Linked DNA regions of Homo sapiens. The protein of the gene in region 1 interacts with the protein of each later gene in a pairwise test. Each region holds a gene or a part of one and is shown on either strand. Other genes may lie near its edges.

Region 1 (10,537 bases):
AGCAACCCACTATTCTATTCAAGAACATGTATATTCAGGTGTGTTAATTAGGGTGAAAGTTGAGGAGCTGAAAGAGGCTCCAAAAACAATGATTTAAAGAAAATAGAAGTGTACTTTTTCCTCTTAACAGTCTAGAGTTCCTCCAAGTCATCCATGGACATTCATTTACATGTAATTCTTATGGTCCTGTGAGCTGTCTCTAAATGAAGTAAAGTAGGCTTCTGCGTATCCACTCTACTACTACTGAAGATGTGAAAGTGGATTGTGTTATAGCTTGGATGTTTGTCCCCTAACAATCTCATGTTGAAATTTGATCTCCATTGTTAGGGGTGGGGCCTAATAGGAAGTGTTTAGGTAACAGTGGTGGATCCCTCATGAATGGCTTGGTACCAACCTCATCCTCATGGTTATGAGTGAGTTCCCATGAAAGCAGGTTGTTAAAAAGAGCCTGGCACTCCCTCCTTGCTTCCTCTTTTGCCGTGTGATTTCTGCACACAGTGGCTTCCCTTCACCTTTTGCCACTAGTGGAAGCAGTCTGCACCTTACCAGATGCAGATGCCCAATCTTGAACTTTTCCAGACATCAAAATTGTGAGCCAAGTAAGCTTTTTTTTTCTTTTATAAATTACCCAGTCTCAGATATTCCTTTATGTCGACACAGCCTAAGACAGATTCAAACACATAAAGGACATCAGAGGGGTAGAAAAGAAAGGCTATGACTGGTTCCTGGAGAATAATACTCTGAACGATGGAGGCATATACAGAAATTTGGAAGAATTTGAAACTAACGTGGTACAAAAGTGGAGATACTTGCATACATATTCACTTATCGATGTTCTCAAGGTAGATTTCAAGATACTTTTATTAAAGATAAAACCAGTCTTGTTAAGAATAGGCTTAAAATGCAGTATTTTATGCTTCTCACTTTGTTTTGCATAGCAGGCAAATACTCATATCAAAGTGACTTAAGTAAAAGGTAACTGAAAAATTATCACAAATTCTACATTGATATTGTACCTTTTCTTCATATTCCTCTTTATATCTGTCAGAATAAAATAAGAAAGTCTTTCCCTGTATGTTTTGCTTGACACTATAAATAAATGATGAAGAATCATGGTAAATTGTTCCAAAGTCTATTAAAAATTAAAAGCTTCCCAAGAATGCTATTTTTTTTTTCAGAAGACTGGAAAGATTATAAATCTAATGCCTGGCAAAAAGTATTACAAAGATGATGGAAACATTGTTTTCCAATTAGTATCAAATATTTCAATAGAGATTTAACCACTCAAATCTTAAGGGATAAAATCAACACATTTTTCCAGGTAGGGATAGCAGTGACATAAGGTGATGTGACGGTTAATTTTATACGTTAACATGAGTGGGTCACCAGATGCCCAGATATCTGGCTAAACATTATATCTGGTGCATCTGCAAGGGTGTTAGAGAACAGACTCGCATTTGAATTGGTGGACTGAGTAAAGCAAATTGCCCTTTCCAAGGTGGGTGGGTTGCCATCATTTAATCCATTCAGGGCCTGACCAGAACAAAAAAGCTGAAGGAAGGTTGAATTGAATTCTCTCTACTTGACTGCTTGAGCTGAGACACTGGTCTTCCGCCCATGAACTGAGACTTACACGACCAGCTTTCCTGGGTCTCCAGCTTGCAAATAACAGATTGTGGGACTTAATCTCCATAATCATATGAGGCAATTCCTTATGACAGTTCTCATTTTATATCTGTTTATATATATCTACCTACATGTAAACATAGAAATACAGATATCTCCTACTGGTTCCATTTCTCTGGAGAACCCTGACTAATACAGGTAGTAATAATAATCATATTTACTGTTTAATAAGCTTCTTCCTAATAAAGACACGTTTACGAAGAATATGTTCAAAAACTTAATTTTATGCCTTGGCAGAGAGGAGACAAATTCTTCCCTCCAAACATGTCAAAGACATAATGCAAGGGTTTAAAAAACAGTTATTGCCTTTTAAGAGCCTGATTTAAAGGAAACTAATAATGAGAAGGGACCTTAGAGGTCTTTTAGTTCTTTGCTATTTGTCCTCTGCAATTTGTGTGCAGCATCTGAAATCACTGACAACCCTCTTCTTTTGGAAACTGTTGCCACTTATGTATCTATGCCACTGAATCTTCCAATTTTTTATTTCTGTAAGTTACTGAGTGACAGGCATAGCCAGGCATAGCTATGTAATACAGTAACACGCATAGCTATACATTTGAAATATTTTAAACCCATGTATCCAAAAGGCTTATAATCTAACAGGGTAGACACACAGGTAAATTAACAACTACTATGCTGTGAGAGGGGATATGTTCAGATGAGGTGTCATCAAAAATCAGCCTGAGGCCGAGGAATGAGCCAGGCCTCCAAGCAGATAAAAGAGATGTTTCAGGGAGCGGCAGGTACCAAAGGCAAGGGGGAGTGAAAAGAACCTGACATATTCAAGATACTGTATTCATTAATTCTGCCAACAAGTATTTACTGAACATGTAATATGTACTAGGCACTTAACTGAGAGCTGGGTATTCATTCAGTGGTATGGAAAAACAGGCATAAACTCCTTCCTTTTTATTGAGAGCAGCAGACAAGCATTAACCAAATAATCACACTATATCAGTATGACTATAAACTAAGAACATGCACAGAAGAAAAGCAGATGGTTCCATGATGATGTGCAGACTTACCCTCTGGAGGGTAGGAGATGGTTTTGGAAGACTTCTGTAGGAAAGAATTCTTAAGCTGGCATCTACAAGATGAGTGAATAGGAGTCATCTAAGTAAAAAGGAAAGAAATAGATTCAAGGAAAAGTGTGACACACATGAAGCAAAAATAAAAAAATAAAAGGAGAAAGAAGAGGTAGGCAAGGAAAAGATAAACACAGAGCCTTGAAAGCTCCATTAAGATTTCAGTCTTTATCCTACAAGTTTGGTAAGCCACTTCAGAATTTATGTTGTATTTGTGTCACAGATTTGCATTTAAAAGGCAAAAGATCTATTGACTCTGAAGAGAAACCAGAGTATCAGATGTGCATTTAAGATCACTTCGATTCCAGGGTGCAGGATAAATTGGAAAAGGTCAGGAATATATGTGGGTAGACCCACTTGATAGTCTATTCACTCAGTCGACAAATATTTATTGAGCACCTACTATGTGGCAAGCACCGCTGGTACACTGGAGATACAGGAACAAACAAAGTCTCTGACCACATGAAATTTATACTCTATTAAGGGAGAACAGTCAACAGACAAACAAATGCTCGGAGTCTACAAAGTCATGGAGTGGTAAGCGCCATGAAGGAAAACAAAGTAGTGTCAGAGAATGGTGAACGAGGAATACACACAGAATTATTGGAAATCTAGGCAACAAATGACGACAGCCTGGATTAATGTGGCAGCAGCGAGAGAAGTGGGTGGACTGAAAAGTTATTTAAGAGATAAAAAAGACATCATCTGGTCTTGAGGATGGACTGGAAACATGGGATGATGGGGAACAGTGTCAAAGACAACCCCTAGGTTAGCAGCTATATGCATGTCACTCTTTAAGGAGAGTATAGTGTGAGAAGAGTCTAACAGAAGTTTTGAAGGACTCCAAAATGTCATGACTGAGAAGAAAATGAATATGCAGAGGAGAGCAGCAGCAGGAAAGGTGAACATTAGGTTACTTTGAAGACTGAGTGAGAAGTGAGGAAACACTTCTCAAGAAGACATCAAGACTAGGCAAGACGAGACAATTCCTAAGAAACATATTTAAGAGAAAAGATAGGAGATAGGGTTAATAGCTGGAGGGAGACATGGTAGTCAGGGTAACAGCTAGAGGGAGATGTTGGAGTCTACATAAGGTTTCATGTTGCTTTCCTTTTGGTTTTCAGATTAGGGAGACACAAGTTCAAAAGGGCGTATCAGGAGGGTAGAACTACAAATATAGAGGACAGAAGGGTCTGTTTTAAGGCAGAGAGGATATAGATGTTAGAAAGATCTAACATGTAGGGGCCACTCAGAAGGCAGGGACTTGATAACCTGGGTTTAAAGGGTGAGTAACAGGAAAGAACTTGATATGGTTCTTAGTTTCATGGCTTAGGTGACTACAGATACCACTCACAAGGTAGGGAACGAAGTAGTAGAAAAGGCTGGGGCTTAAAGAGGAAAAAGGAGGAAAGGGCTATGAGAAGGAAACAAAGATGAATTCAGCTTTACACAATTAATTTACAGTTATGTTTGACAGATAAGTGGAACTACACAGTAGCAATTAGATATTTCAGAGCTCAGACTGAGATGACTGAACTTATTAGCATATAAGTAGTAGGTGAAGTACCATTACCCAGGAAAAGTACATTAAAGACTAAAAATGTATTAGGGAAAAATGGAATGATATTCAGAACAGAGTCTTAGGAGTCTTTAAGGTTTAACAAAGAATGTTTAAAAAATCCATATCCATTTAAATGCACTACTGTTTTCCTTCCTATCTTCTGAAATTCCAAGAGAAACATCTTACACTTTTATATTTTTTCAAAACTGAAAAACATGCAGAACCAAAATAAATCTTCTAATGCTGACACTATTGATTTCTATATTTTAGCAATATATATTATAATAAATATTTTTAAAATTCTCAAAGGTACTCAATATGATCTCTTTAAAAAAAATAGTGAGTCAATATAAAACTGGTAGGATATGTGTTTAAGTATCTGGGTATGTGGTGTTTTTGCCAAAGTTAGGGAATTATCTTTAGGCCTTAAAAAAATGAAGGATAGGAGAAATTGTAGTTTTGTAGATCCTGCAAGTTCAAATAACTCTTCTGGCTGTTCATTCAACAAATGTAAGATACTGAGAATGGAGAGAGTGATAAAACACAGTCCTTGACCTCCTTGAGGAGCTCTTAGCGTACATCATGGTACATATGGTACCAGGAGTTGGCAACTATGGCCCACTGGCCAAATCTGGCCCTCTGCCTATTTTTGTAAATAAAGTTGCATTGAAATATAGCCACACTCATTTGTTGAAATGCTGTCTATGGCTGCTCTTGCACTAAAACAGGCAAGTTCAGTAGTTGTGACAGACCATACCACCTGCCAACCCTAAAATACATATTATCTGGCCCATTACAGAAAAAGTTTGCCAACCCTTGATATAGAGCAAAAATAAGCCTGTAGAAAATATTATTTCCTCAGGGAGATAATATGGTTTCAGGGGCTTGGAGCGGGTTTCATAGGGAAGGTAAGTAAGGTAAGGTAAAGGTAAGTGAAAGCTCACAAAAAAACTAAAAAAAGAAGGAATATCACAGAGGCCAGGCGCAGTGGCTCACAACTGTAATTCCAACACTTTGGGAGGCTGAGGTATGCAGATCACTTGAGTTCAGGAGTTCGAGACCAGCATGGGCAACATGGTGAAACCCTGCGTGTCTCTACAAAAAATACAAAAATTAGCCAAGCGTGGTGGCCTGCGCCTGTAGTCCCAGCTACTTGGGAGGCTGAGGTAGAATTGCTTGAGCCTGGGAGGTGGAGGTTTTAATAAGCCTAGATCACACCACTGCACTCCAGCCTGGGTGACAGAGTGAGACCTCGTCTCAAAAAAAATAAAAATAAAAAAGAAAATAAATATCACCCACAAAGGCACAGGGTTAGAAAACACTGTATTTGGCCAGGCGCAGTGGCTCACGCCTGTAATCCCATCACTTTAGGAGGCCGAGACGGGGGGATCACGAGGTCAGGAGTTCGAGACCAGCCTGGCCAACATGGCGAAACCCCGTCTCTACTAAAAAATACAAAAATTAGCCAGGTGTGGTGGCACACACCTGTAATCCCAGCTACTCGGGATGCTGAGGCAGGAGAATTGCTTGAACCTGGGAGGCGGAGGTTGCAGTGAGCAAGATCACACCACTGCACTCCAGCTTGGGCAACAGGGCAAGATTCCGTCTTGGGGAAACAAAAAGAAAACACTGTATTTTAGGAAAACAAGAACAAGCACAGTCCATCTGGTATATAGGATATTAAAAGTGGTAAGAGAGAGGATGGGAGAGAATAACACTGGTAAAAACAGGTTAAGGTTACATTGCTTTGTCCAAAGTTTAAACTAGTAGTTGGGAGGATAGTAAGTTATCAAAAAGTTAAAATGCTAAGATTTATGAATGACACGTTTTTTGAAATTAGAATAGCTTTAATGTTATTCTTTTAATGTTTTTCTCACTGATTTGTATCCTGACATTTTTTGACAAAGAGATTATAGAAACCCAAATATAGAACTAAATATCATCCTGAGTATACAAAGGGACAGTATGCCATACATTTGAATGCCATGTAATTCATCATGCTGTCACAGAAGGAAAAAAGACTTTTAAATTTAGGGCCGGGCGCAGTGGCTCGTGCCTGTAATTCTAGCACTTTGGGAAGCCGAGGTGGGCAGATCGTTTCAGGTCAGGAATTCGAGACTAGCCAGGCCAACATGGTGAAATCCTGTCTCTATTAAAAATACAAAAATTAGCCAGGCATGGTGGTGGGTGCCTGTAATCCCAGCTACTTGCGGAGCTGAGGCAAGACAATCACTTGAACTCAGGCGGTGGAGGTTGTAGTGAGCCAGGATTGTGCCAGTGCATTTCAGCCTGGGCAAGAGAGCGAGACTCCTTTTTGGGGGAAAAAAAAAAAAAGACTTAGAAATTTAGCTATGGGAATCAGGGAGCAGATGGAAGTTGCTGAGCAAAGGAAAGAAACAATCCAATGCGGGTTTTAGAAAGCCTAACTCATGATAGGAAGGGAGGGTGGGCTGAAGTATGAGAGCTACAATAGAGAGAGTAGTCTGGAAGCTGCTGACTAAGCAGTTTGAAAGGCAATGTTTATGGCAGAAGACAGGAAGAAAACAGGTTCAGTATGTTTAAGGAGAGACTGAAAATAATATATAGAGATTTAATTGAATATATCCAAGAGTGCCTCTTAGGTAGACAACTGAAAAGATCTACAAGCAGAAGATGAGATTTGGAAGTAGTGGTGGTTGAAATCATAGGAATGGGTAAAATTTCTTCAGGGGCAGGTAATACACATATGAAGGAAATTAAAAAAGAGAAGACAAGAAAATCTCCACATTTAATAGACAGAGTAAGAATAGCTAGGAGAGAAACAGGAAAATAAGATAAAGGTGATATTGTGGAAGTCAAGCGCATAGTTTCAAGAAAAAGACAGCTTAGCACACAGAATAAAGAGTCAAGTTGTTCAGGTATATTCATAAGTTCTTCTGGTGACAACGTTCAAGATACTGCAATGAGAGAGATAGCAACCAAATGTTTACCTATAGAATAAAGTGCCATGAACTATTTGTGGTGGTTAAGGATAAGAACTCTGAATTCAGAGGGACCTGGGTTGCAATCCCAGCTCTGCTATCTTGGGAAAGTTCAACTTTCTAAGTTTCAGTTTTCAACCTATAATATATATAATATATATACTTACTTGCCTCACAGGATTGCGGGGAGGAATAAGTGAGATAATATAAAGTACTTAGAACAGTGCCTGGCACATAGGAAGTAACGGAATGTTGTCAGTTATTATTAAAATCATTTTTACTAGGAATGGAAAAGCAAATCACTGTGAACTATTGCCTGAAAGCAACTTGGCTGCTGGAGCCAAAAAGGCCAACAAATGTTACATATTGATGAGGATACAAAATATGGTTTACCTTTCTATAAAAACTAGTTTATCTTAAGTGGAATCACTATGTGGAATTATACAGTAATATAGAAATAGGAATTAAATACAACACAACAAAACTTAATTGGGTCTTCTATCTGAGAAAGAAAAAACTAAGTCTATACAAAGGCCTGCTCAGAGAAACAGGAGAACTGACCAGCAGATGGAGCCCTGTAGAAAGTGTTGGCAGGCAAAACTCCAGTGAAGAAGTATGACTCATTAGGATGCCTAAGTTTTATTCCTTAAAGATATTTAATTCTCTCTGCTTTAATCACCAAATGACTTCATTAGTAGTAGGGTTTCCAACATACGTCAACACTGATATTGATATTTTGACTGGTGAAACAGATATCCTAGAATATACAATACTAGAATTCCCTAGTATTTTATAAACTGGAAAAAGTGGTAATTCTGGTTTTGAGATTAAAATAGTAAAAAACGAGTGATCTGATTTTCAGATTTCTCAGGGGTATGTCAATCTGCAAGACTCAGAAACCAGGCCTTAGATCATAAGGCTTCCCTGTGAAGTCTAGCTTAAATCAAGCTAAAAAAGTTGAGGACACCCTCTTCTTTTGTGGTCACTACAAAGACATATAGGATCAAATCAAGTTTTTGTGATTACTCCTCAACTTTTTCACCTTTAGAAGAACTACTAACTATCCAGACCTATACTTGAAAGAAAATCAAAACAGCTGATAAAAAAAAAAAAAAACTAAAATAAGAGTTTAACCTTATTGCACAAGTAACTATATCCATCTGTCTCTACATGCTTACTGGAAGCTGCTAAAACAGTATTAAAATTGATGTTAAACAATAAGTTAATCAGAAAATTCAAGTAAGGGAACCGTCAAATCCTGTTTATAGACTTAAAGTAATAGGATCAATATCACCATTATATAATTTTAGATGACAGTGTCCACAACCTATAAACTCTCACTGCCTCCACAGGACTTGTTCAAAGAGCTTTGCCCACAAACAGTAAAAATCCAACCACAAGTTGAGTATACCTAACCCCAAAACCCAAAATCTGAAATGTTCCAAAATCTGAAACTTTTTGAGTGCCAACATGTTACTCAAAGAAAATGTTCATTGGAGAATTCTGGATTTCAGATTTTCAGATACTACACCAGTATATAATGCATATATTCCAAAATCTGAATAAAAATCTGAACTCCAAAGCAAGTATTTCAGATAAGAAATACTCAACCTGCTGGCCGGGCGCGGTGGCTCATGCCTGTAATCCCAGCACTTTGGGAGGCCAAGGCTGGCGAATCATGAGGTCAGGAGATCAAGACCATTCTGGCTAACAGGGTGAAACCCGGTCTCTACTAAAAATACAAAAAAATTAGCCGGGCATGGTGGCGGGCGCCTGCAGTCCCAGCTACTCAGGAGGCTGAGGCAGGAGAATGGCGTGAACCCGGGAGGCGAAGGTTGCAGTGAGCCGAGATCGCGCGCCACTGCACTCCAGCCTGGGCGACAGAGCGAGACTCCGTCTCAAAAAAAAAGAAAGAAATACTCCACCTGCTTATGTTTTTATGGCATATCTACAGACAATTAACACTCACGCTGATTCATGGATTTCCTCCTGCCACCTCCCTGTGCTGCCAAGCTCACGAGCTGAGGGAGTAGAACCTACAATTTTAATGCCGTACTCTACGGAGACCCCATGAAAAAAACAAAACTAAAGTCCACAGACACATCATGTAGTCCAAAGTCAAATATAAAGTTTTTTGCTTATCCATTTAGAATGTAAGTACTGCTCCCTCACCAACCAACTTTCTTGGAGTTAGAATTTAACGCCCTGTAACACAACTACAAATAATAGTAAAAGCCAAAGATTGTGTGGCATCTAGTTATTGGGCAAGCCTACTTAAGCAGCTTGACCTTGTAAGTTTCATTCACACACAAAAATTATAAATACTTAAACCAGATGATCCTGGATGACAAGATAAAACAACTGTCATGTCCCACTCAAGAGTAATAACTCATAAATTAGGGAAATCGAAATATTACACTAGGCACAAACTGCAAATCCTTGCCCTTCCATTCTAGGGATACTTAGTGTAAAACCTTAGCTATTTTGTATCAGAGAGGTGACACAATGCCTAATTAATGAATGAGAATCCTATATTTTATAAGATCTCCATTACCAAAGATTCAAATTATGATCATTTACTGCAATTTATTTATGTTGAACATCTTATTACCCAATAATGTTAGTTAAATGGAACAGATTATGAAAAATTAGCAATCTGTTTCAGAAAGTGCAAAACAGTCTTAGTCCTTACACAAACTGGCTTGGTTCAGATTTTCAATTCTAGGTTTGAATTCCGGAGGGACATTTAATAACAACAAAGCCAACCCCAAAGGAATTTGCTCTAATTTTTTCAATATATATGAAATAAAAAAACACAAAAACGGAATTATGAAATTACTATTCTGTGGATGGTGCATATACAAAACCTAAGCAATATCCCAGGTTTACTCAAGAGAAGTGAAGTTCAGAAGGACTGCAATTTACCTAATGTTACAGGACGTTTGAGTAGCAATCAGGGCAAGGAATTCCTCTCGAAATTTCAAAAACTTAATACGAAAAAATTACACATTGTCCCTGTAGTTATGAGCACCAAGAATCTGAATGCCCATTGGGAACTCTGCAATTCAGCAAGTCTTTGTAGCTACCAGAGTTCATCAGTATCTGGAACCTTATTTTACTCCAGCATCCAAATGACTTCTACTTAAAATCAATCTGAGGCATTAACTCCGGAGCCAGATCCCACCTGCTCTGCCAGGGCTAAAGAGAGGGTCAGATACAGGGATACTAGCTTTGGCGTTAAACCT
Region 2 (10,537 bases), on another chromosome or scaffold:
AGAACCTCCTGAAGTTATATTACAGACATGGCCTTGCTTCTTTCAGGGATTGTCAGCAAGCCTGTTATGGTGAGAAATTTGACCTATTGCTCTGTTTCCTAAATATTTGTAGGAATACAATGATACTAAGTATGAAGTATATTTCAACTTGTATGGAATTCTGTGTGGGAGGGTAGGCACTCTAAAGAGCCAGTGTCTCTCCAAGTCATCAAAGAATGCAGCATCATGTTGCAGTTGAGCCTGGCAGCCCTGTCTGGCACTGAGTGCTGTGGAGGACCCAGGTGGTAACCTCTAACCCTACTGCAGCCTTGGCATTGTCTTAGAGAAAAGCATCCAGACATGCACAGGACTCTGGACAGCGTTTATCTCCAGCAAGGGGGGAGGGAATGACACTGGGGAGAGGCACACAGTATCTTCAGTATTTCATAGCAAATAACTGCAGTCGTTTAAACTTACACATTTTTTTTTTTTTTGAGATGGAGTCTCGCTCTGTCGCCCGGGCTGGAGTGTAGTGGCGCGATCTCGGCTCACTGCAAGCTCCGCCTCCCGGGTTCACGCCATTCTCCTGCCTCAACCTACTGAGTAGCTGGGACCACAGGCGCCCGCCACCACGCCCGGTTAATTTTTTGTATTTTTAGTAGAGATGGGGTTTCAACATGTTAGCCAGGTTGGTCTTGATCTCCTGACCTCGTGATCCGCCCACCTCGGCCTCCCAAAGTGCTGGGATTACAGGCGTGAGCCACCGCACCTGGCCCAAATTTATACATTTTTAAAATTTATACATTCTTAGGCATGTTTCTCAATGTTGGAAAAAAGTCAATGTGTAACTTTCTGTATAGGGCCATAAATTATCTTAAAACATACTTGTATAAAAAGAAACCTAGGATAGAAAAATCAAAAGTTGAGTGAAATGTATGATTAGTATCACCTGAAAACATTCTTTGTAGATAAGTGGAATGTTAGAAACCAGTATTTTATTTTTATTTATTTAGAGATGAGTCTCACTGTGTGGCTCAGGCTAGAGTGCAGTGGTGTGATCCCCGCTCACTGCAACCTCCGCCTCCCAGGTTCCAGTGATTCTCCTGCCTCAGCCTCCCTAGTAGCTGGGATTACAGGTGCCCACTACCACACCAGGCTGATTTTTTGTATTTTTAGTAGAGACGGGGCTTCACCATGTTGGCCAGGCTGGTCTCAAACTGCTGACCTCAGGCGATCCACCCGCCTCAGCCTCCCAAAGTGCTAGGGTTACAGGTGTGAGCCATTGCACCTGGGCTGAAACCAGTATTTTATGTAGCAAAGAAATGATCAGTAATATACTCAAGACGAGAGTATTTGGGAAGATTTAAGTGTCAAATTTCAGGGCATAGAATAAAAGTGACAAGCACATTAAGATTGCAAATACTGGTCTTAAATGTCTGTTGGGAACCAACTGAATGGCAGGTACTGTGCTGAGTAGTCAGCGATACCTTGATAAAAGAGCCACTGTTGGCCGGGCGTGGTCATGCCTGTAATCTTAACTCTTTGGGAGGCTGAGGCTGCAGATCGCCCCTAGCTCTTTGGGAGGCCGAGGCAGGTGGATCACCTGAGGTCAGGAGTTTAAGACCAGCCTGGCCAACATGGTGAAACCCCGTCCCTACCAAAAATACAAAAATTAGCCAGGTGTGGTGGTGCACACCTGTAATTCCAGCTACTCATGAGGCTGAGGAAGGAGAATCGCTTGAACCGGGAAGTGGAGGTTGTAGTGAGCCGAGATCACGTCACTGCAGTCCAGCCAGACTCCGTCTCAAAACAAACAAAAAGAGCCGCTGTCAGCCGTGCAGTGGCTCACTCCTGTAATCCCAGCACTTTGGGAGGCCAAGATGGACCGATCACCTGAGGTCAGGAGTTTGAGACCCGCCTGGACAACATGGTGAAACCCTGTCTCTACTAAAAATACAAAAAAAACCAAAACCGGGTGTGGTGGCGGGTGCCTCTAATCGCAGCTACTCAGAAGGCTGAGGCTGGAGAATCGCTTGAACTGGGGAGGCAGAGGTTGCAGTGAGCCGAGATCACGCCATTGCACTCCAGCCTGGGCAACAAGAGCAAAACTCTGCCTCAAAAAAAATAAAACCAAAAAACAAAAAAACTCTGTCCTCTAGGAGCTCACAGGCTGGCATGGGCAGGTACCACAGACCAGGTTAAAGGCTGTGGAGTGCACTGAGGAGGCGATTCTTCACAAAAGAAAAGTACCAATCAGCCAGTGTCAGGGGGTCAGGGGTGGGATTGGGATTGGGGTTCCTGCTTGGAGGAAATAAATCCTGAGGTTGTGCTGCTGTAAAGGGGCATGTTGGGAAGGGGACATGGGAGTGAGTGTGGAAAGACGAGGTTAGGAAAGGCCTTGAATGACTTCTTAGAAGTCTGCTTTCATTCTGAGGTTTACAAAGGAGGGTTGGAAGATTTTTTTTTTTTTTGAGATGGAGTCTTGCTCTGTCACCCAGGCTGGAACGCAGTGGCACGACCTCTGCTCACTGCAGCCTCTACCTCCCAGGTTCAAGTGATTCTCCTGCCTCAGCCTCCCGAGTAGCTGGGACTACAGGTGCGTGCCACCACATCCGGCTAATTTTTTGTATTTTTAGTAGAGTCGGGGTTTCACCACGTTAGCCAGGATGGTCTCCATCTCCTGACCTCGTGATCCGCCCGCCTTGGCCTCTCAAAGTGCTGGGATTACAGGCGTGAGCCACCGCGCCTGGCCGGAGGGTTGGAAGATTCTGAGGAGCCAGTTGCCACTTTAGAAAGAGCATAGGCAGTGGTGGGGCAGGTGCTGTGAACTGGGATGAGGTTAATTAGGAAGCCATTAACCCCAACTCGGCAAGCCTCAGGATTAGGGCAGTGACAGAAGGAACAGAGAAGCTAGGTGGGGGCAGGGGCTGGGCTGTAAGGGTTATAGTGGAGCTGATTTGGGGCTGACTGGATTGGGGTAAATGAGGAGCTGCAGGGAGGACTCCCCAGAATGATCCTGTGAAAACCTGAGTCACTCCTCTGTTAAAGCTTTTGTCAGTGTCCTCTGAGCACCCCACCCTGTCTCTTTTCATCTTCCTGCTCTGGCCCTACTCAAGCACTTCCAGGTGCATCTGGAGTTCTGAACCAAACCCATTCTTGTAGTGATTAGCATTTCTTCACTTCCCCACATACTCCTTAGCCTCTGCCCTGATTTTTCTCCTTAGCACACCTCACTATCTTAAATGCTGTATTATTATTATTTTTTTTTTATTATTACTTTTTGAGACGGAGTCTCGCTCTGTCACCCAGGATGGAGTGCAGTGGCATGATCTCAGCTCACTGCATCCTCTGCCTCCCGGGTTCAAGCCATTCTCCTGCCTCAGCCTCCCAAGTAGTTGGGACTACAGGCATGTGCCACCACACCTAGCTAATTTTTGTATTTTTAGTAGAGACAGGATTTCACCATGTTGGCCAGGCTGGTCTCGAACTCTTGACCTTAAGTGATCCACCTGCCTCAGCCTCCCAAAGTGCTGGGATTACAGGCCTGAGCCACCGTGCCTGGCCAATACTGTATTATTTTAATCATTTTAAAATTTTTATTGTTTGTCTCCACTTAACATTCATAACCTCCACAAGGATGGGGAGTTTTGTCTCTTGTATTCAGTGTCGGTGCTTGGCGTGTAATAGGAACTTAGTAAATGTTTGTTGAAGGAATGCATCTAGAATGATCCTCATCTCTAATTTGGGTGATTCACTGGCTGGTGACACTCATCCAAGGAGGGAAAATGGGAGAAGGATGAGATTATGAGTTTGTTTTTGGACATGTTAAATCTGAAGTGCTTGTGGGGCAGCCAAGTGGACTAGTGGGCAGTTAGAGATACATCTTTGGAGCTCAAGACAGAGGCTGAGGCTGGAGGTAAAGATTCCAGAGACTGCATCATATCGTTGAGCCAGTCGGGTGTGATGTCCATCTGGTAGAGATGGGGAGTGGGTCTAAGAGGAGAGGGTCCTGGGAAACCAAGAGAAGAGGAGGGAGGAGATCAGTAGCAAATTGGCTAAGAAGTCAGTGATGGGTTGGACTGAGAAGTCTCTATGGATTTTGCTTCTAGGAGGTTACTAATGACCTTTAACTTTTTTTTTTTTAAATATAGTTTATGTAGAGACGGGGGTCTCACTGTGTTTCCCAGGCTGGTCTCGAATTCCTGGGCTCAAGCCATCTGCCTGCCGTGGCCTCCCAAAGTGTCGGGATTACAGGTTTGAGCCACTGCACCCGGCCTGTTGCCTGTTTCCTGAGAATATTACCTCTTAAGGATGGAGGCTATTTCGAGATGATCTTCATTCGTTCTCCCAAGGCATCCTTTGTGGCGTTGTACTCTGTAGCCTCCTAGTTAGTATACTCATGGATCAGAAATGAATTATGATTTTTTTTTAGTTTTAACTAATTTTTGGAGGCAGATGAAAGCAGTTTGCATATATGCTTTTTGAATTTGAAAAGTGCTATCTGAACTTAAAGCAACGGATATGGAGCAAACATGTTAAGCTGAGTTACGTGCATACGTGAACTGAGTTACTTCCTTGGTTCTAAAATATCTGTTACCTTCATTTAAACCATAGATTGTTCCCTGACTTCAGTTGCATAACATAAATTTATGTTCAGGCTTCTCTGAAGTTCACTATGCTGCTACTAAAACTGATCAGAGTGATGTTTGCACTGTTCCAGAGAAAATAGGTACTGTAAACCCTGCGGATGTCATATGTGTCTGTAGTTTCAGTTACTCCGAAGGCTGAGGTGGGAGAATCAGTTGAGCCCAGGAGTTCAAACTAGCTTGGGCAATATAGTGAGACCTTGTTTCTTAAAAAAATAAAAGGCTGTGCTTGGTGGCTAATGTCTGTAATCCCAGCACTTTGGGAGGCTGAGGAGGGCGGATCACCTGAGGTCAGGAGTTTGAGACCAGCCTGGCCAACATGGGTGAAACCTTGTCTCTACTAAAAATATAAAATTAGCCGCGTGTGGTAGTATGCTTCTGTAGTCCCGGGTATTTGGGAAGCTGAGGTAGGAGAATCACTTGAACCCGGGAGGCGGAGGTTGCAGTGAGCCAGATCGAGCCACGGCACTCCAGCCTGGGCGACAGAGTGAGACTCCCATCTCAAAAAGAAAAAAAAAAAGTAAAATAGGTACTGTTACTGAGATTCTACTGTTGAGGAATTTGAGGGTGAGAGAGGGGAAGTTTCAGAAACCAAAGTTACACAGCTGTGAAGTCAAGATTCTAACTCAGTTTTTTTGCTTCGCGGTATAAGCTTTGAATCACCTTGCAGTACTTAAAGCTGCAGCTTCAAGTGAATCATGATAATGCTGTTTAATCCTATCATTACTTTTTCTTGGGGAAACCTCGCGCCACTTCAATTTTTTTCAAAGATGTACCATTTTAACCATTTAAAAGTTCACAATTCAGTAGTGTTAAGGATATGCACATCGTTGTTCCACATTTCTGGAACTCTTTCATCTGGCAGCGCTGAGACTGTAGCCCCCAAATACTGATATCTCCTCCTCCCTCGCCCTCCCCCGGTAACCATCTTTTCTACTTTGTTTCTATGATTTTGACTACTTTCAATACTTTATTTTTTATTTTTTTTGAGATGGAGTTTCACTCTTGTTGCCCAGGCTGGAGTGCAGTGGCACGATCTCAGCTCACTGCAACCTCTGCCTCCCGAGTTCAAACAATTCTCCTGCTTTAATTTCCTGAGTATCTGGGATTACAGTCATGGGCCACCATGCCGGGCTAATTTTGTATTTTTAGTAGAGATGGGTTTCTCCATGTTGGTCAGGCTGGTCTTGAACTCCTGACCTCAGGTGATCACCCCCCATCGGCCTCCCAAAGTGTTGGGATTACAGGCGTGAGCCACCGTGCCTGGCCTTGCCTGTCTTTTTCATCTGAGCCATTCTAGCGGGGTATAGTGGCATCTTGTTAGTTTTAATGTGCATTTCACTGATGACTCATAATGGTGAGCGCTTACATGCTTGTCGGTCTTTGTATGCCTGGATTTGTAAAGTGTCTGTTCAAGACTTTTGCCCATTTAAAAAATTGGATTGTTTGTATTTTTAAGTTCCTTACATATTTATTTATTTATTTATTTTTGAGATGGAGTCTCCTCTGTTGCCCAGGCTTGAGTGCAGTGGCGCGATCTCGGCTCACTGCAAGCTCTGCCTCCCGGGTTCACGCCATTCCCCTGCCTCAGCCTCTGGAGTAGCTGGGACTACAGGCGCCTGCCACCACGCCCAGCTAATTTTTTTTTTTGTTGTATTTTTATTAGATATGGGTTTCACCATGTTAGCCAGGATGGTCTCGATCTCCTGACCTCGTGATCCGCCCGTCTTGGCCTCCCAAAGTGCTGGTATTAACAGGCGTGAGCCACCACGCCCAGCAGTTCCTTACATGTTTTTTTTTTTTCAGATGGAGTCTTGCTCTTGCTCTATTGCCCAGGCTGACGTATTTTTTATACAAGCCGTTTGCCAGATATATATGTGTCGCAAATATTTTTTCCTAATCTATGGCTTAACTTTATTTTTTGGTAGTGCCTTTTAATAAATCAATACTTTTAATTTTTCTTAACCATGCTCTGGCAAGTTTTATTAAAGAAATTTTCGGCTGGGCGCGGTGGCTCACACCTATAATCCCAGCACTTTCGGAGGCCGAGGCGGGTGGATCATGAAGTCAGGAGTTTGAGACTACCCTGGCCAGTATGGTGAAACCCCGTCTCTACTAAAATTACAAAAATTCGCCAGGCGTGGTGGTGTGCACCTGTAGTCCCAGCTACTTGGGAGGCTGAGGCAGAAGAATCGCTTGATCCCGGGAGGCAGAGGTTGCAGTGAGTCGAGATTGCGACACTGCATTCCAGCCTGGGCAACAGAGTGAGACTCTGTTTCAAAAAAAAAAAAGAAATTTTCGCAGGGTTTATTTTTATCTTTTATTTTTTGTTGTTGCCTAAGCAACATCCGCTTTCCTTAATTCTGAAAGCATATCTATAAATAAGTCACCCAAAGGCCAAATAGATGCATTTGTTTTGTCTGGTTGTTAATGTTTTCTTTTTAAAAAAATATTTATGTATTTATTTAATTTTTGAGACAGGATCTTGCTCTGTTGCCTAGGTTGGAGTGCAGTGTCACAGTCGTGGCTCAGTGCAGCCTCGTGTTCAAGTGATCGTCCCACCTCAGCCCCTGAAGTAGCTGGGACTACATGTGCGCACCACCATGACCGGCTTGTTTTTTGTAGAGACAGGGTTTCATGGCATTGCCCTGGCTAGTCTTTAACTTCTGGGCTCAAATGATCTGCTCTCCTTGGCCTCCCAAAGTGCTGGGATTACAGACGTAAGCCACTATGCTGGGCCACCAAGATACTATTTATTTCCCTGAATATGACGTGGACTGTTCCTGTAGGCTGGTCCCTTCACCTCAGGACCCTCTTTGCTGGTATTGTTTGGGGCTTCTGCGCCTGTATATGGGGATGGGACCTGACCCTGCTGATCTGGCCAGCACTGCCAGGGTTTCCTGTTGCCCATCTCTCGGTAAAACATCCCTTATAAACCTTTGCAAGGAAAAAACCTCTGTTTTCTTCCCTCCATCCCATTTTTCCTTAATGTGCTACCCTCGTCTGTATTCATAGGAACTTTATTTAACACTTGAGAACTGAGAGTAATTGACATTTCTTTCTTGGCTGTCCTTCATTCTGTGCACCCAGACCTATTGCTTTTTCTACCACATTCTTTTTCTCTTTTAGAAAATTGAAATGTAAGTCACATCACATCAAATGCCCCATTTTAAAGCGTGCAGTGCAGTGATTTTTAATGTATTCTCTGTTTTGTGCAACTACCATCTATCTAATTCCACACATTCCTTTTCCCTTTTTAGTGCTTGGTGTTTTTTTTTTTTCTTAACTTTCTTCATCACTGTAAGCTTTCCCCACCTGGCTGAATTTCACATGATAAAACCAGGGGAGGTAAAGTGACCAAAGATGATGCCCTTTGCTTCTCTGGCCTTTGCTTTCATTTCATTAATTTTTTTTTTTTTTTTTTTTTTTGAGTCAGAGTCTCGCTCTGTCACCCAGGCTGGAGTCTGGGTGTATATGTATGAACACAGTGGGGTGTGTGGGTGTGTGTGAACATAGTGGTGTGTATGTATGAACACAGTGGGGGTGTGTGTGCGTGAGCACAGTGGTGTGTGTATGTATGAACATAGGGGTGTGTGTGAGCACAGTGGTGCATATGTATGAACATAGGGTGTATGTGTGTGAGCACAAGGGTGTGTGTGTGTGTGTGCGTGCATGCAGAGTGGTAGGGTTCCTGAAGCAGAGGGACACTTGGGGCAAAGAGACCTTGGATTGTGTTCTTCTTGTTGGTAGAATAAGCTTAAATCACTTCATGTATCCCAGTTTCCTCAGCTGTAAATGGGAATTATAATGATAGGTCATCAAACTACCTGCAGACTTTTTTTGTTGTTATTTCGATAAAATATTACACATTTGAAAATGCTCCCAAAACTAACATATTGGACAGATGCGAATTCTTCTTTCCTTTTTTTTGAGATGGAGTCTTGCTCTGTTGTCCAGGCTGGAGTACAGTGGCATGATCTTGGCTCATTGCAGCCTCAGCCTCCCAAGTAGCTGGAACTACAGGCATGTGCCACCACGCCTAGCTAATTTTTATATTTTTAGTAGAGATGGGGTTTCACCATGTTGGCCAGGCTGGTCTTGAACTCCTGACCTCAAGTGATCCGCCTGCCTCAGCCTCCCAAAGTGTTGGGATTACAGGTGTGAGCCACCACGCCTGGCTCTTTCTTGTCTTTTACTTATTTATTTTTTTGTGACAGGGTTTCGCTGTGTCACCTAGGCTGGAGTATAGTGGTACAGCCAAAGCTTACTGTAGCCTTGAGCTCCCAGGCTCAAACAATCCTCCCACCTTAGCCTCCTGAGTAGCTGGGACCACAGGCGTGTGCCACCACACCCAACTAATTTTTATTTTTGTAGAGACAGGGTCTCACTGTATTCCCCAGGCTGGTCTTGAACTCCTGGGCTCAAGCAGTGCTCCTGTCTTGGCCTCCCAAAGTGCTGGGATTACTGGTATGAGCCACCACACCCGGCCCAGATGTGAATTCTTTATTTTTATTTTATTATTTTTGAGACAGGGTCTCAACTCTGTCACCCAGGCTAGAGCACAATGGTGCAATCATGTTTCACTGCAGCCTTGATTTCCTGGACTCCAGTGATACACCTCAGCCTCCTGAGTAGCTGGGACCACAGGTGCATGTCACCACACCCAGCTAATTTTGGTATTTTTTTTTAGGATGGGGTTTTGCCATGTTTCCCTGTCTGGCTTTGAAATCCTGAGCTCAAGAGATCCACCCGCCTTGGCCTCCCAAAGTGCTGGGATTACAGGCGTGAGCCACTGAGTCAGGCTGTGAATTCTTTCTTTTATTTTCTTTATTTTTGAGACAGAGTTTCGCTCTGTTGTGGAGTGCAGTGGCACGATCTTGGCTCACTGCAAACTCCACTTTCCAGGTTCATGCGATTCTACTGCCTCACCCTCCCGAGTAGCTGGGATTACAGGTGTGCACCACTATGCCTGGCTAATTTTGTATTTTTAATAGAGACAGGGTTTCACCATGTTGACCAGGCTGGTCTCGATCTCCTGACTTCAGGTGATCGACCCACCTTGGCCTCCCAAAATTCTGGGATTACAGGCATGAGCCACTGCCCCTGGCCTGTGAATTCTTTTTTTTTTGAGACAGAGTCTCGCGCTGTCGCCCAGGCTGGAGTGCAGTGGCGCGATCTCTGCTCACTGCAAGCGTCACCTCCCGGGTTCACGCCATTCTCCTGCCTCAGCCTCCTGAGTAGCTGGGACCACAGGCGCCCGCCACCACGCCTGGCTAATTTTTTGTATTTTTGGTAGAGATGGGGTTTCACCGTGTTAACCAGGATGGTCTCGATCTCCTGACCTTGTGATCTGCCCGCCTCGGCCTCCCAAAGTGCTGGGATTACAGGCGTGAGCCACCGCGCCCGGCCCTGTGAATTCTTAATATACATATTGTATGTATACTTTTTTGGTTTTGTTTTTATCAAGTTATATATGTATTTTGTATTTATGTGTAGATTTGAAAATAAACTTTTAATTTTAGAATAGTTACAGATTTACAGAAAAGTTGCAAAGATAGTACAGAGAGTTCCCACATACTTTGCATCCAATTTCCCCTAATGTTAATATCCTACATTACTGTGATACATTTGTGACAACCAAGGAACCAACATTGGTACCTTACTATTATTATTACTATTATTTTTTTTTTCTTTTGAGACAAAGTTTTGCTAGGTCACCCAGGCTGGAGTGCAGTGGCTCCATGGCTCACTGCAACCTCTGCCTTCTGGGTTCCAGCAATTCTCCTGCCTCAGCCTCCCTAGTAGCTGGAATTACAGGCATGCGCTACTATGCCTGGCTAATTTTTGTACTTTTAGTAGAGATGGGGTTTTGCCATGTTGGCCATGCTGGTCTCGAACTCCTGCCCTTAAGT

Evidence for each region.
Region 2: the proteins of AP1AR (region 1) and KLC1 interact in binary tests that used the Homo sapiens proteins (3 or more experiments, as listed by UniProt).

What each region holds. Positions count from the first base shown.
Region 1 is NC_000004.12:112,232,530-112,243,066, reverse strand, and holds part of AP1AR (AP-1 complex-associated regulatory protein), read right to left. Parts: intron 1-10,537. UniProt on the Homo sapiens protein: Necessary for adaptor protein complex 1 (AP-1)-dependent transport between the trans-Golgi network and endosomes. Regulates the membrane association of AP1G1/gamma1-adaptin, one of the subunits of the AP-1 adaptor complex.
Region 2 is NC_000014.9:103,630,626-103,641,162, forward strand, and holds part of KLC1 (kinesin light chain 1), read left to right. Parts: intron 1-10,537. UniProt on the Homo sapiens protein: Kinesin is a microtubule-associated force-producing protein that may play a role in organelle transport. The light chain may function in coupling of cargo to the heavy chain or in the modulation of its ATPase activity.